Linked DNA regions of Homo sapiens: region 2 is linked to region 1. Evidence: fine-mapped expression QTL. Tissue or cell type: fibroblasts. Region 1 holds a variant in brackets; the other region holds the start of a gene. All regions are shown on one strand. Distances are between the middles of the regions.

What was found. PIP is the estimated chance that this variant, and not a neighbour inherited with it, causes the effect.
Region 2: it holds the start of RNF175, and the variant in region 1 is fine-mapped to the expression of RNF175 in fibroblasts (GTEx, PIP above 0.99).

Annotation. Positions count from the first base shown.
Region 1 is chr4:153,647,824-153,656,084 of GRCh38, forward strand. It overlaps the pseudogene LOC100419170. Among named protein-coding and RNA genes, the nearest start is that of TLR2, 32 kb to the right of the region's middle. The variant T/A (reference allele first, on the strand shown) is at 4,613.
Region 2 is chr4:153,756,546-153,764,806 of GRCh38, forward strand. It overlaps RNF175 (ring finger protein 175), which reads right to left and starts at 3,479. Exons shown (of 9, transcript NM_173662.4): 1 at 3,252-3,479. The coding sequence starts at 3,317.

The sequences.
Region 1 (8,261 bases):
GTTGGGTGTTCTTCAAAAGTGAGTGCCAATTCACTGTAGTACCCGGCACTTGGTCTTCCATGCTTTCATTATTAGGGAAACTAGATTTGTAGCACAGCTACTGGAGAGTACTAGGATCCTAGTAAGCTGGCTTTACAAACATGGTGTGTACTGCCTATTTTTGCTTTTATTTCAGAGAAAATAAAACGTAAGATAATAGGAACAAATACATGTGAACTGCTGGACGGCTATTCAAAAATAGTTTGCCAGAGTAACTGGTAAGCCTGAAATCTGTGTAGCCATGAAAGGGCTCATCATCGGCTTAATTCTGAAGCAAAACTTGGTGAAACACGTGGTGGTTATCTTGGAGGTAAAATGCTGGCTTCCCAGTGGGAAGTGAAAGTGTCAATCAGGTTGTGTTGGGAGATGTGATAAAGGCTGAGGCAGTCTTGCAGCTCATGATTTTATGCAGGGGCTAAGATGAGAAGGATGTTCAAAAAAACCAGGGGATGTTATTCTAGCTTTTGAGCATGAGACAGCCTCAAAGCACTGGGAAAGCTGGATGCTAGCAGGAGGCAGTAGAAATGCAAGTGTGAGAAAAATAAAGGCTGGGCTGGCGTGCTGGCAGGAAATGGATTCGAAAGGCAGGTCTGATAAATGTTTCAGAAAAAGAGAGCTGTCAGGATGAGGTAGAGTGAGCTTGGCAGCCTGGGAGTTGGCATGCCATTGATGGTCAAGACCAAATGCTGTTTCTCCTATCCAGCCAGAAATTTTGCTTTAGAAATGACACTAGGGCTTTGCTCTCAACAACCACTGTCCTCTCTCTCATTCTCCCTCTCACTGGGTTACCTCCTCCTTGTCAGTGACTTCTTCTGTGATACTGACTCTTCCATCCATCATGGGTTTTTTCTCTGATTTTTAAGAATAAGTGGAAATTCCTATATTGTTTGTTCTTTCAATTGTAGAAAATATTGAAAACCAAAAGGAAATAATTTAAAAACACTGTAATTGCACTACGAAGAAGCACTTAGTTTGGTATACAGCCATGTGTTGCTTAATGGTGGGGATATATTTTGAGAAATGTTTTATTAGGTGACTTCATCACTGTACAGATATCATAGAGTACTTACACAAACCCAGATTGTATAGCTGACTACACACCTGTGATATATGGTATAGCTGAGTGCTCCTAGTCTGCAAACCTGTATAGCATGTTACTGTACTGAATAAGGCAGGAAATTGTAACACAATGGGAATCATTTGTTTATTTAAATATATCAAAACATAAAAAGGTACAGTAAAAATGCAATATAAAAGATAAAAAATGGTAGGTACCCGTGTAGGGCACCTACCATGAATAGAGCTTGCAGGACTGGAAGTTGCTCTGGGTGAGTCAGTGAGTGGTAAATGGATGTGAAGGCCTAGGACACGGCTGCACACTACTGTACAATTCGTAAGCACTACACTTAGGCACACTAAATTTATAAAAAATATTTTTCTTTAATAGGAAATTAAACTTAGCTTACTGTAATTTGTTACTTTATGAACTTTTTAACTTTTAACAACTTTTAGATTGTTTTTAAGCAACATTTAGCTTAAAACACAAACTCACGTACAGCTGGACAAAAATATTTTCTTTTTAAATATCCTTACTCTATAAGCTTTTTTCATTAAAAAATTATTTTTACTTTTAATTTTTTTTTGTTAAAAACAAAGACACAAATATACACATTAGCCTGGGTCTACACAGGGTCAGGATCATCAATATCACTGTCTTCCACCTCCACATCTTATCCTGCTCGAAGGTGTTCAGGGGCAATAACACGCACGGAGCTGTCATCTCCTATGATAACAGTGCCCTCTTCTGGAGTACCTCCTCAAGGAACTGCCTGAGGCTATTTTAGAGTTAACTTAAAAAAAATAAGTAGGAGTACACTCTAACAATAAAAAGTATGTAAATACATAAACCCAGTAATAGTCTATTATGATTAAGTGTTATGTACTATACATAAATATATATGCTATACTATTGTAAGACTGGCAGTGCAGTAGGATTGTTTACGTACAGCGTCACCACAAACATGAGCAATGCATTGTGCTACAACGTTCTGATGGCTATGACATCATTAGGTGATAGGAATTTTTCAGTTTTGTTATGATCTTATGGAACAACTGTTGTATCTGTGGTCCATTGTTGGCCAAAGTGTCATCAGGAGTTGCATGACTGTATCTCCTTCCAGACTTGTGTTTATGTGTGTGCTTTTACAAAAATGGAATATATACACTATTCTAGGAACTCCTTTTCTCATTTAATATTCTGTGAAAAGCTAGACTTATTTATGAATGCTTATGAGATGTTTTACTGGCATTTCACACTCAATGTGACAACACCATCCTTATCATTTCTAACCTATACCTCATTTTTTTCATTTTTCATTTCATTAACTTTTTCAACATCTTTTGAGCCCACAGTAGGGGTCTAACCACTTGATAATTGTCTTAGTTTATTTTCTGTTGCTATAACAGAATACCATGGACTGGGTAGTTTATAAAGAAAAGAAGTTTATTTAGCTCATGGTTCTGGAGGCTAGGAAGTCCAAGAGCATGGCACCACCGGCATCTAGTGTGGGTCGTCCCATGGCAGAAGCGGGGAAGGACAGAAGGTGGAAGCAAGTGCACAAGACAGAGAGAAAATTGGGTAAAATTCATCCTTTTTATAAGGCGCCCACTCCTGTGATAACTAACCCACTTTATGATAATGACATTAATTCATTAATCCATATAATCACCTCTTAAAGTTCCCACCTCTCAACACTGTTACAATGGGGATTAAGTTTTCAACACAAATTTTTGGGAGGACACATTCAAACCATAGCAATGGTTAAAATTAAGCTCAGATACTCTCTTTTTTCCCTACCCTTCTCATATTTAATTGTCTCAAAATCACTCATTCATTCAATAAATATTTTTTTCATCTGTCCTTACATGGCCTGTGTGCAGCCTGTGCCCTCATGATTTTCTCATTCAGTGAAATTGAGCACCTACTATGTGCCAGACTTTGTTTTTGGCTCTGGGCATACCAAAGTGAACCAAATGGGGAAGGTACCTTCTATCATGGTGCTAGTATTCTAGAGGGGGAATAAATAATACATCAATATATTAGCTATCCATTATTGCGTAGCAAATTACCCCAAAACTTAGTGACTTACAATAATGACATTTACTATTTTACTGTGTTTGTGGGTTAGGAGTTGGGGCATGCTTTAGCAGGTCCTCTGCTTCAGGGTCTCTCACAGGCCGCACTCATCTCAAGGCTCAACTAGGGGAGAATTGGCTTTCAAAGTCATTCATGTGGTTGTTGGCAGGATTCCATTTCTTGCTGTGTTGGCTACAGGCTACTGCCAATCCTGGCCACATGCACCTCTCTGTTAGGGCAGCTCACAATAGGGCAGCTTGCTTCATCAGAGTAAGCAAGCAAGCAAGAGCCAGAGAGAGAGAGAGAACGAGAGGGAGAGTGCCGGTAAAACAAGAGTCATGGTCCTTTATGACCAATCTTGAAGTGACATCCCATCACTATACCATATCCTATTTGTTAGGAACAAGTCCCTAGGTGGCCCATTGAAGGGGAGGGTGTTACACAGGGTTTGAATACCAGGAAATGGGGATCATTGTGAGCCGTTTTAGAAGGCTGCCTCCCACAGTCAAGAAACAAGACAATTCCAGATCATACTCAGTGCTAGAGAGAAAATAGGACAGGGATAAGACGAAGAGCATCTGGGAGTGTTGGGGAGGTAGTCTTCATTGAGTGTTTAGAGAGGACCTCACTGAGGAGATAACAGTGAAGCAGAGAACTAAAGGGCAAGAAAGGGCCCACCCGGAAAGATTCAAGCCTTCCAGACAGAGGAAACAGAAAAGGCAAAGTGGCAGAATGAGCTCTGCCTGTTTGAGGAAGAGGGTGGAGCCCAGTGACATGGAGTGAATGAGCACGAAGGAAGTGGGCGCCTGCTGAGATGAGGCCCGGGTAATGAGTACATGAAGTGAATAGTGTCTGTGTTTTGAAATACTGAGTAACTTCCCTATGTCACAGCTTGTAAGTGACACAGCACACACAAGGATTTGAACCCGAGTCCATCTGATGCTAAAATCCATGTTTTTGCCACACTAGTGCCTTGCAGAATTTACTAGAAGGGGATGCTGCTGGGTGGTGGTCAGCCACTCCAGGTGCTCATGATGTAAGTAAGACTTTCAGGGCTAAAACCAGGATAGTCCTGAGGAAATTGGGATAGCTGGTCACCCACAAGACACGACAGGAACACTGAGTTCTCTGATGTGATATGAAACCCAGGATGAGCCGGCAGCCCTGAGTCAGCCTGATGAGAAGTCGGCTGTGCCTTTTGTTACCAAGAAAACAAAACTGTAGCATAACCCCACCTTGTTGTTAAAACAAAATGTTTACATTCTTCTGTTCTGCTTCGCTCAAGTCATTCCTGTGGGACAAGCCGACCTAACATACAGGTGTAGTCAGGGGCTAGGAGAGACCTAGGCAGGCCCTTGTCCATTCTCAGTCACTGAAGTGAGACCTAGGGACTCAGGAAGGACTCAGAGTTCCCTTAGTCATCATTCCCTCTGGGCA[T/A]CCTGCTTTTGGCATAATTACTGATACGAGCACCTCGTGTCCCCTCCTGAATTATACCTACCCCCCCGCCTCCCCGCCCCCTGCAATTGCTTAGCACAGTATCTGGCCCATGGAAGTGACTTCATGGAAATTCAGCGGATGAATGACTGGACAATGAACAACGCACAGCAATGTGTGGTGTGACAGAAAAGGCTGCACCAGCAAAAATTGGAAGCTGATCTTTGGGTATTTCCTTGCCTTGGTCACTTTGCAATTTCCTGGGTGCTTGAAACAGGAAGTCAGTGACTCTAAGCCCCTGTGGGATCTGGCACCTCACATCAAGGTATCTGGAAAGTCCTTATTCTTCACTTCTCCATGCGATCCTACCCTACAGACCAGCCCTCCTTTTGGAATCTCTCCTGCTACACATTCTGTGACCCTGGGACTCTCTCTTATTTTATTTATTTATTTTTATATGCCCGTGTTTCCAAAGGAATAATAGGGCAGTTAAATATAGCTATGACTGTGCCTTTCCAGAGCCCAGAAAAGTCTGGAAAACTGGGAATATCCAAAGCTCAGGATGATATTGCGCACACAAAAAGTACTAGGCAGAGTAGTGTTTAGATAGAAACAGAGTAATGTTTAGATAGAAAGCAGACTCAGTCATATAAAATATATGCATATACAGCATGATCTGCATTTCTGTGATGCTTCTGAAGTACAGAAGCATTCAGCACTTCAGTAACTCTTATTGCAAGTTACCTCTTCAATCATTTTTCTTCAATCATTAAAATGCTTTAAAAAATTTTTTAGCTTATTGAGGTATGACTGACAAAAATTTTAATATATTTAAAGTGTACAACTTGTTTTGATATATGTATACATTGTGAAATGATTACCACAATCAAGCTAATAAACATGTCCATTATCTCACGTTACATTGTGTGAGAACACTTAAGATCTACTCTTAGCAAATACCAAGTATTTCGAGTATATCAAGTATGCAATATATTATTACTATACACTCACCATGCTGTACATTAGAGCTTCAGAACTTATTTATCTTATAACTGAAAGTTTGTACCCTTTGACCAATGTCCCCATTTCCACCATTCCTAGTGACCACTGTTCTACTCTGTTTTTATGAGTCTGGCTTTTTTTAGATTCCACATGTAAGTGAGATTATACAGTATTTGTCTTTCTGTGACTGGCTTATTTTACTTAGCATAATGTCCTGCTGGTTCATCCATGTTGTTGCAAATGGCAAGATTTCCTTATTTTTTTAAGGCTGAATACTATTTCATTGTGTAGTATACACCACATTTCTTTATCCATTCATTCATTGATGGACACTTACGTTGATTCCAAATTTTGGCTATTGTGAATAATGCTGCAATAAACATAGGAGTGTAGACAGCTCTTTGACATATTGATTTCATTTTCCCTGGGTATATGCCTAGAAGAGGGATTGCTGGATCATATGGTGGTTCTGGTTTTAATATTTTGAGGAAACTCCATATTGTTTTCTATGATGGCTATACCAATTTACATTCCCGCCAATAATGTATAACAGTTCCCTTTCTCCACATCCTTGCCAACACTTATCTTTTGGCTTTTTGGTACTAGCCATCCTAACAGGTATGAGGTGATGTTTTATTGTGGTTTTGATTTGCATTTCCCTGATGATTAGTGATGTAGAGCACATTTTTATATGCCTGTTGGCCATTTTTATGTCTTCTTTGGGAAAATATCTATTCAGATTATTTTCCCACTTTAAATCCAGTTATTTGTTTTTTTGCTATTGAATTGAATTTTTTATGTATTTTGGATAGTAACCCTTTATTATATATAAGGTTTACAAATTTTCTCCCATTCTATAGGTTCTTTTTTTCTTTATTTTACTATAAAGTTTAAAATCTTGTTTTAATTTTTGTGGGTACATAGTAGGTGTATATATTTATGAGGTGTGTGAGATGTTTTGATACAGGCAAATTGTGTCACAGAAAATCCCCTCAAGCATTTATCTTTTGTCTTATGATACAATTAAACTCTTAGTTATTTTAAAATGTACAATTAAATTATCGACTATAGTCACCCTGCTGTACTATCAAATAGTCGGTCTTATTCATTCTTTCTAACTATTTTTTGGGTACCCATTAACCATACCCATCCCCCCGCCTCCCCCTTACCCACCTCTATAGGTTCTTTTCATTTTGTTAATTTTTTTCCTTTGCTGTGCAGAATAAAATGCTTTTTCAAAGCAAGTTAAAGCTGCTCTCTACTTAGATTAAGAAATCAACTTAAAGTATTATATATATATATATATATATATATATTAAAAAAAAAAAGAAAACATCTGAAGTGGCTCCAGCAGAAGGAAAGGCAAGATGGGAATCAAAGTTTAATCTACATTCTTTCTGCTTCTCCTTTTCTACCAACACTGTGTTCAACTGCATAACAATAGTACCAATGAGCACGAGAAAGATAGTTTTTAGTTTAAAGACTATTTCAGTTTTAGTCAGACTACTTCAGACCTCAGACTCCAGACTTCAGACTCCAGACTTTAGACAACAGACTCCACATGCCACACAACAGACTTTCAGACTCCAGCTTCAGACTCCAGACTCCAGATCGCACACTTCAGACAACAGACTCTAGACAACACACTCCAGTCTCCACATTCCACACGACAGACTACAGACTCCACACTCCAGACAACAGACTCCACACTCCAGACAAGAGACTCCACAATCCAGACAAGAGACTCCACACTCCAGACAACAGGAGACTTTTAGACTCCAGATCAGACTTCGAACTTCAGATTCACTCCAGACTTCAGACTCCAGACCAGACTTCAGACTCCAGACCCAGATTTCAGATTTTAGACTTCAGACTCCAGACCAGATTTCATATTTCAGACTCCAGACCAGACTTCTGACTTCAGACTTCAGACTCCTGACCCTGGATTTCAGACTCCAGGCTTCAGAGTTTGGACTTTGGACTACTTCAGCTTTAGTCAGACAGACAACTTCAGTCACACCACTTTTCACCTCTGCCATCTAATCTCGTCTTTTGAACAACCCCCTAAAAAGGTAACATTCCCAAGAAACCCAGACCCAGAAACACTGAATGACATACTCAAGACTACCCAACTAGTAAGGGGGAGGCCACAGTTTCCCTTACCCTGGCAACATGCACATGGCAGGCCCTTCACTTAGCTGGTAGAAGGAACACAGGCTTGGGAAGGAGATGTCTGATGTTCACTCCCTGACGACACTCTTACTTGCTTCAATGATCTCTCTGAGCCTTGGGTGGCCCATCTGCTAAACAAGGATGAGTTATTTCCTGGGGATGCTAAGAGACTTCTGCCTCATGCCTGCAGTGCTGCTCATGTTGCCCCCTTGGAATTACTTGTTCAACTTCTTTCTTCCCCACTAGACTGTGAGCTTCTTCAGGTCAAAGACCAGGACTTTCTTGCCATTAACCCCAGCAACTAGCATCATGCCTGACCAAAGGGCATGCTGATGACAATAAACATTGATTGTCCGAAATCACATGCCTGGTCCCCAGTAGGCGCTTGCTGGTTACTGCTTTCTTCCCATCCTCCCTCTGCCACCCCTTCCTCTCTGAGTCTGGAGGGGATGGCCATGTACTAGCCAGGGGCAGTGTC
Region 2 (8,261 bases), 110 kb after region 1:
ATAAATGCCTCACAAACATGCCCCCTTCTCTCCACCCCTATGGCTTCTATGCCATTCATTTTGTCATTCATTCAGCAAATATGGAGTGGTGCCTCCCATGTGCCAGCCACTGGGTTAAGAGCTGGCATTCAAGGGTTAGAAAGACAAACAAGGTGTCTGTTCTCATGAATAGGACCTTGTGTTCTAGAGGAAATGATGCACAATAAACAAGCAAACAAAACAACTGCCTAATGAAGTAAATTATATGAAGAAAATAAAATGTGTGATAAAGAATTACCAGCAGAGGGCAAGGGCTGTCACTCTTTAGATAGGGTGGCTAGGGGAAGATGAGATGGAGGCCAGCATGCAGGGTGTCCCCCTCCTCTGAGGCCCTTGCCTTCGCTCTCTTCCCTCTTCAAACAGTAAGAGTGTTCCCATTAAAGGTAGACTGATCCTATTGTCTTCCTGCCTGAAATCCAACATGGCTCACAAGGCCTTGTATCCCATTTCAGCCTCCCCTCTCTCCACTGCCCCTGCACACCCTCTGCTCCAGCCAAGCAGAGCTTTCCTGTCCCTGAATGCTCTCCCTCCACTCCCAGCCTCCATGCTGGGTTGCCTCATTTCTGCTCACCCTTGGATCCCACTTACTCCAGGACACCCTTTCGGTGAGGCCCCTACCAGGATATATACTGACCTTGAACATTGTTACCAGACTGCATTGTTGATGACTTATTTACTTACCTGAATCTGTAGGTGGCCAGCGCTGGCCTCATCCCCCCACTGAATCCTCATGTCTGGTGCATGGCACACTCAATGTGTTTGGAGACTGCCACCCCGATTGGCTTTCATTATCTCTCACCTGAACTGCTGCCTCCAAACTGATTTTGTCACTTTCAACTCTTCCCTCACAAAACCCACCTGTTAGAAAAATCTTTCTAAACCAAGTAGCAAAGCCAGAACAATGAACTCAGAAACTAGTGATGACCCTGGACCACATGTGAGTGCCAGGTAGGAATGTTAGGTTTAGAGGGCTGTATTCATTGGTAAGGAATTCATGTCACAAGGCAAGGCTGCATGCCTGTGGGTGGAGAGGAGGGGCTGTGTATGGCCTGCCCCCAGGCAGAGAGCAGTTTTGGGGAAGTGGTGGGTCCTCTCAGCTCTCAGGAGAAATCCGAGCCTGGAAAGCAAGCCTTAGACAAGCAGAAGAGGGAACTCCTAAACCCATGGTCTCTGCTCTCACACTCCAAATTTTAGGAGTTTCAAACATACCTAACCAGTTGCAGGCTCAAAAGACCCCAGGGGTTGTAGCTGGGGAGGTGGAGGATGGGGAATAGGGAGATGGTGTTTGTCCAGTAAGGTATGCTGGAGTTAGGGTCTTACATCATAAGATTGTACGTTACTGTTCATTTATTCATTCAATAAATATTTATTGAGGCCCTGCCGTTTGCTGAGACTGTTCTAGGTCCTGGAAATACAGGAGCGAGCAAGGCAGACCACATGGCTTTTCTGCTGGAGCTTTCATGCTGAAGGAGGTTCTTAGACAATCAAATACACACATAGACATACTTCAGGTAGTGATAAGGGTGATGAAGGAAAATAAAATAGGGTGAGGTTCAAACCAAAGGGAAGCTATCAGATAATAGGCTGGTCAGTAACTATCTCTGTTTTCACTTTCTTATCCCTAGCTCTAGTAAAGTCAAGAAACCAGCACTTCTTGAACTTTGATGTGCAAATGAATCACCCTGGGATCTGGTTAAAATGCGGATTTCAATTCAGTGGGTCTGGCGTGGGAACTGAGACTGCATTTTTAACAGGCTCCCAGGTAATGCCTTGGCTGCTGGTTCCTGGACCACACTGTCTTGCCATATGGGATTAAGGGAAAAGCTGTGAGTCCCTCCTAGGGCAGCCTCAACAGAGAGGCCATACCTCCTGAGGGCAGCAGACTAGGCAGTGATGCCAGCCTTAAGGAAGAGCAAAGATCAGCAGCAAATCCACCAGTACTAGATCCTCTGACACTCCTGGCATGCATTCATCAATTCAGAACCTCCCTTTCGATAATCTGGGTTTGAAACCAGCAAGAAAGTCATGGAGTTTCATTTTAAGTTTCCCCATTTTGTGGTACACAAGCCCCTCCACAGCCTAGCCCACCCTTATTTTTTGCTATAAGCATTCCTGACCCCTAGGTTTCTGGCAGTCAGAGTGGACAGTCCCCTCTCTCTGCCTTGTCCCATGGCCATCCATCCCAATATTAAAAAAAAAAAAATCTCCAAGCCATTTGGTACTGTTGTTCCCTCCATCTAGAATTCTCTGGCCCATGAGGTCAGATCCTGTCCATTCCCCAACACCCAGCTCGAATGCCACGCCCTCACGGGTTGGAGGAGAAGGGGGTTAGTCAGGAGCAAGCCCTTCTCAGAAATCCTACAGTTCTTTGCCTGAACCTATTTTGGGACATTAATCTCTTCCTACCCGCTCTGTGAGTGATTTTTGTTGTTGTTTAAGAGTTATCTTTGCCCTTAAGAGTTATTTTTGTCCTCGTTTTACGGATGGGATTTGGGTTCCTCCAGGTAAGACCTACCCTCCTCCACCCCCAAATCCTCCTGGTACCTGGATGTAGCCTAAGAAGAATTGTCCTATGAACGAAGAATAAATTAAGATTGGGTTTGCAATTGACGCCAGCAGAAGCAGAAATGGGCTAGGTTGAGCACCAGGCAAGACAAGCTGACGATCAGGGTACACATCTTGAATCAGAAACCCTGGGCACAGACCAGCAGTCTGCGTGGTAACAGGCCCTCCGAGTGATTCTGATGACACTCGAGTTTGAGAACCAGGGCGGTCTAGCCAAAAGCCTGCAGTACACCCCTTCCCCTCTCTCGCAGCTTACGACCTTGACCCTGGGCTCTGGGGGCTTCCGCCGAGGAGGGAGGAGGGCACAGGCGGTCACAAAGGAGGGCGGGAGTGGAAGGGGTGAGCCTGGAAGAGAAAGTGCGAGGATGCGAGAAGAGGGATGGAGCGAAGGAAGAGGATCAGAAGGAGGAAAGGAAGGTAGCGGGGAGGGCACAGAAGTGGGGAGGGAGGGAGTGGAGGAGGGACTGGCACCCCGCACGGTGGCATCTTCCAGAAGGTCATGCGTCCGTCCCCACGTCTTTCCAGGGCCGGTTCTCCCCGGTGGGGCCCGGGGTCTTGGAGACCAGTCTGTGCAGCCTGCCCGGCACCAGCGTGAGCCCCGGGACCCCGGCCTGGCGTCCCCCACGCCCGCGCCCCCGCGCCAGTACCTGCTCCTGCTGCGGGGGGGCCTCCAGCACCGGCGCTGCCTTCCGCGCCGCCGTCCCCGCGGCCATGCCTGAGCCACTGTGCCTTCTCCAGGGCACAGCGCCTGCCGGGGAGGGTCCCGCAGAGTCCGCAGAAGGAGGCGCCGCGGGGCCTCGGGAGCCGAGGGTGAGAGCCGGATCTGCGGCGGCGGCGGAGCGGCGGCCCTGCCCGGGTTGTGCGGGGCGGGAGATGGGAGCCTCCCGGCACGCCCCGCCTCCGCCCCCTGCACGCTGGCCAGCGTCCTCCCCAGCAGCGGCCTCGAGGTCCCGGTCGCCAGCACCCCGGTTCCTTCAGAACCTCAGGCCTCCCATTCAGCCAGCCATTGTCGCCGATAAAGCGTCTTGAGCCCTACCGGGTGCGTGTGGCGGGAACCCCGGTTTTGTTACCGGGCGGCAGGACTGGAGGAGGGGTCAGAGGTGGGTAGGGAGAGAGAGGGGAGTAGAGGAGTGAGAAATGGCGGTGGGGGGGCGAGGGGTGCTGGGGAGGAAGAGAAGAGAGAGAGAGAGTTTCCTCTCCCTCAGAGGTGTTTATTAGGAGGCAGGAGTTCGGGTGGCTGTGCAGATACAGACTTTCCTCAGTTATCTGTGCTTCCTCCAAAGATGATGAAGGAGAGAAACTCCAATCTAGGGAGAGCGCAGACCATCTTGGCCCCTATGCTGCTCCAGGCCATGCAGGGCCCCTGCGACGCAAGCATCTTGCCTTTGCCCCTCTACCTCCAGGGTCTCCCCTCCCGCCTTTACAACTTAGGCCTAAGCCTGGCTTCAAGGTTGAGAACAAGCTGGAACGTTTAGGCAAGCCTTTAGAAATACCTGGGTGTTGATTTGGGGAAACAGAAAAGAGGAGCACAGAATTAGATGATGTGTCCTACGAAATACAGCTTACCCCTTTCCAGTTTGTGATGGCTCGTATTTGTCAACACCTACAAAGGAGGTGAACAGACCAAGATGGACATTTCTCTGCCATTGTGGAACGTAGAGCCTAACAGGGGATAGAGAAAAATAAGCATCTAAGTACAATTTATCACGGATGGTGCCTTGGTTTTCCAGCCTTAACTGGGCATCAGAATCCTATGGAGGAATGCTGAGTTTGTTAAAACTCAGAGTGCTGGCCAAGCACAGTGGCTGATGCCTTTAATCCCAGCACTTTGGGAGGACAGGGCGGGCGGATTGCTTGAACCTAGGAGTTTGAGACCAGCCTAGGCAACATGGTGAAGCCCCATCTCTATAAAATATACAAAAGTGAGCTGGGCGTGGTACACCTGTAGCCCCAGCTACTCAGGAGGTTGAGGCTGGAGGATCGCCGGAGCCCGGGAGGTTCAGGCTGCAGTAAGCCGTGATGGAACCACTGCACTTCTGCCTGGACAACAGAGCGAGACTCTATCAAAAAACAAAACAAAAATCTTCAGATTGCTGGAGTTGAGCCCTAGAGTTTTTAATATAGTAGGTCTAGGGTGGAGCCTGAGCATTTGTCTTTTGAACAAGTTTTCAGGTGCCGCTGGGGCTGTTACCTACATCTGAAGACTACCTTGTAGCATGATCAGAGTGTGTTGGAAAGAGTGTCTGAGATGGAGAGAACAGTGGATGCAAGGGCCGGAATGCTGGAGAAGGCATAATGAATTGGAGAAATAAAAATCATGGTTAACATTGATAGAATGCTTACCGTGTGCCAGGTGCCGTCCTGAGCACTCTACCTGTGTTAGCTCATTCAGTCTTCCTGACAATCCTGTGAGGTGGGCATTGTGACCGTCCGTGTTTTACACGGGAGAACACTGAAGCACAGAGAGGTCCAGAAGTTTGTTCAAGTTTTGAAGCTAATAGGTGGGGCAGTGGGAATTTGAACCCAGACAAAACTGACTTCATGGTCTGGGTTCTTAATCTCTCAAGGAAGTAGCTGCGAAGGTCAGCAAGGGCCAGATCCACATAAATCATATTAAACAGTTTGGACTGTAGCCTCAGGAGAATGAGAAGCCATTACCGAGTTTTAAGCAAGAAAATGACATTACCAGACTTGCCTTTTGGCTTCAAGAGTGGGGAAGAGGGCTATGACTATGACTCAAGACAGAGAGACCAGCCAGAAAGCTATTGCTGTAGTTTCAGCTCTAAGGATGACAGTGGCCTTGGTGGTGAGAGTGTGTGCGGGGACAGAGTGGAGGGGAGATGGAGAGATGTGTTTGGGGATGGGAGATCTAGGTAATAGAATCTACTGTACTTGACTCATCTCCAAGGATGGTGCCCAGGCATGTGGCTTGGGCAGTCTAGCATTTGGGCAGACAGTGCTGCCATTGCTGAGAATGGGAACATTGAAAGAGCAGCAGATTTGGGGACACAAAAATAGTGGGTTCATTTGGACATGTTACTTCTCTACCTATCTTGTGGCCTGCCTTCATGTGGCAAGAGCCATTTTTTCTCTCCAGCCCAGGATATCCTCACATTCATCTAGATTCTCCCAAGGCAGCAAAATAATAAAATGAAAATAGTCCATATGGAGATAGATGTTCCCTTTCTATAAAATTCTGACCTGTTATTGTTATATAAGTCTCAGGTCCCAGATTTGAAACTCTCTCTCCTGATTGATTGGCACCAAAAAGACCCACATACTTCACTGGAGACCCATGTATGCACAAAGGTATCATCTTCCTTCTGGCTTCAGCTCAGCAATCATATCAGAATAAAACTCAAAAAGTGCATTTCTTCCCCATCAGTAACGATGGCTTTGCTCTAATCTATCCTCCTCTTATACCTGGTTTCTTCTATGATCAAATTGCAGATATTCAGAATGAATATTTAATTTCCCAGTCAGTTAGGCAATGCTCTCTGGAGTAGTTCACTGAAACAAGGTTAATTAATTTGAAATTTTGTTTTCCAAATCAAATGGTTGGCGGCTGACTCTGTCTTCTGTCCTGGAATAGATGAACTGTATTCTGCTGCTTAACACTAATCTCTTCAGCATTTTATCTGTAGTCTGTGCATCCTTCTTCATGTCCCGCAATGTAGAGTCCTGAGGTGGTTGTAATGATGTAATGGAAGAAATTAGCTAATGTGGTAAATGTGTTTGAGAAACAAGGTGGGGTCAAGAATCACTAGTCAGTTGATTGTCATATTTGGTGCAGGAATCAACAGACTCAAGGAACAGAATGGGCACATACATTTATGGAAAACTAGTTTCATGAGAGGAGTAGCAAATCAGCAGAAAAAAATAGATTATTTAGTAACTGGTTTATCCATAAGAAAAAAAAATTATACCATACCAGCACAAAACTGGTGGTTAGAAAGCAATAGTTTATCTAAAAGAATGTTTTTATGGTCTCAAGATAAGAAAAGATATATTAAACAAGACTCACAAAGAACAAATGGCAAAGAAAAAAGTTTGCCTGTATTAAAATGAAAAATTTCTGTACAACAGAAACTTGCGGTTAAAAAAGAGGCAAGCCATGAACCAGAATATATTTGTATATAACTCATTGACAAAGGACTAGTACTCAGAATAAGTAGAACTGCTAGAGATTAATTTTTAAAAAGCGTAGATCAATAGAAATGGGCAAGGGATATAAATCAATTTGTATAAATAAAATTATGAGACTTTAAAAATAATTTTAAGGGAATTAATGATTGAATTTATTAATATGTGGATTAATTCAGAGTACACACTTCACAGGAATGCTTGTATATGTTCAGTTACTTGTTCCGCAGTGGCTCCCTCCAGCCTTCCTACCCTAGACCACTCAGCAATTTTCCCCATTTCTCCTCCACTTTCTTGGGGCCACCAAACTTCCTTGGGCCAGTGGTGCCACCTAATGGTTAGATCTTGCAGAATGCCATTGTATTGCTTTACAAATGATCTTTTTCAAGTAACTTCCATTTTCAATTTACTCCTTTCCTCATTTCTCATCTTTTCATATTTCATATACCATATACAGATATCTCATGTCTTTTTCATATTCCCAGATAAAATGTGTATTTGATCCCTAGCATTAAGCTAGAATAAATGATTCAGAATGTCTCCAGCCAGGTGCAGTGCTGGTCACATGTGGAATAGGATGGCAGAGGGAGACTCCATGCAACTGGCAGAACTTCTCCTCTGTGAAGGGGATAGCAAGAGCAGGTTCATCTACATGAGGGCAGGGCAGGGAGGTAAAAATCCATCCAGGCTGTGTGAATATCCAAGAGCTTGTCTGATCTCAGAAATCAGTATGAAAAAGACACCAAACTTTCTGGACTCCAGTGGTTCTTGGGGCCAGGGTTGGCTTTGTTATAAATAGGAATAATCACCCAAGAGGGGAGGAACGCTGAAGCCAGGTCCCATCTTGGCTGATGAAATAGCTGCATAGGAATGACTAGGCTAACTTCTTTTCAGTCGTCCTAACCCTCCATTCCACCCCCTCCCCAAACTCCTTTCTGGGTGCTAGGTTGGTCTTCACATGCAGACACTAGTTCCTTAGAATTGACAGAAATCCTGCAAGTTGGTCTGATTCCCAACTGTCGGGGTTCCTGACTTAACAGTCCCAGTTTTCCTTGGTCCCTCTGCCTAACTGGATAGACATTTTCATCTTCCTTTAATTAAATCTGTTTTTGCCTAAGCACTAGTACTTTTTTATCTCATCCTTTAATTATTAGTATTGTAACACTATTGATTTCCACTCTGTTGGGCTAAAATGTATGGTGTTTAGCTATATTATGGTTACATGGCTTTTTGTGAGCTGGCTTGTAGCCCTAATTGCCATTTATAAAATTGCTTCTATGGGAAAGTGCATTCTGCCTTTCAAACCACAGCCTTCCAAACACACGAACACAGTTCATTTGTGAGCTGGGAACCATCAGTATTAATGTCTCTTGGCCCATGGCAGCCCCACAACCAAATGACATGTGGTTTAAGGTTCGTGTAACAGCCAGTTCATTTAAATAATGTTAGCTAGGACTCAGCTTTCAGGTTCTCGGATTTCTGGTTAATTTCGAATAGAAGAGGCAGCAGAGTTG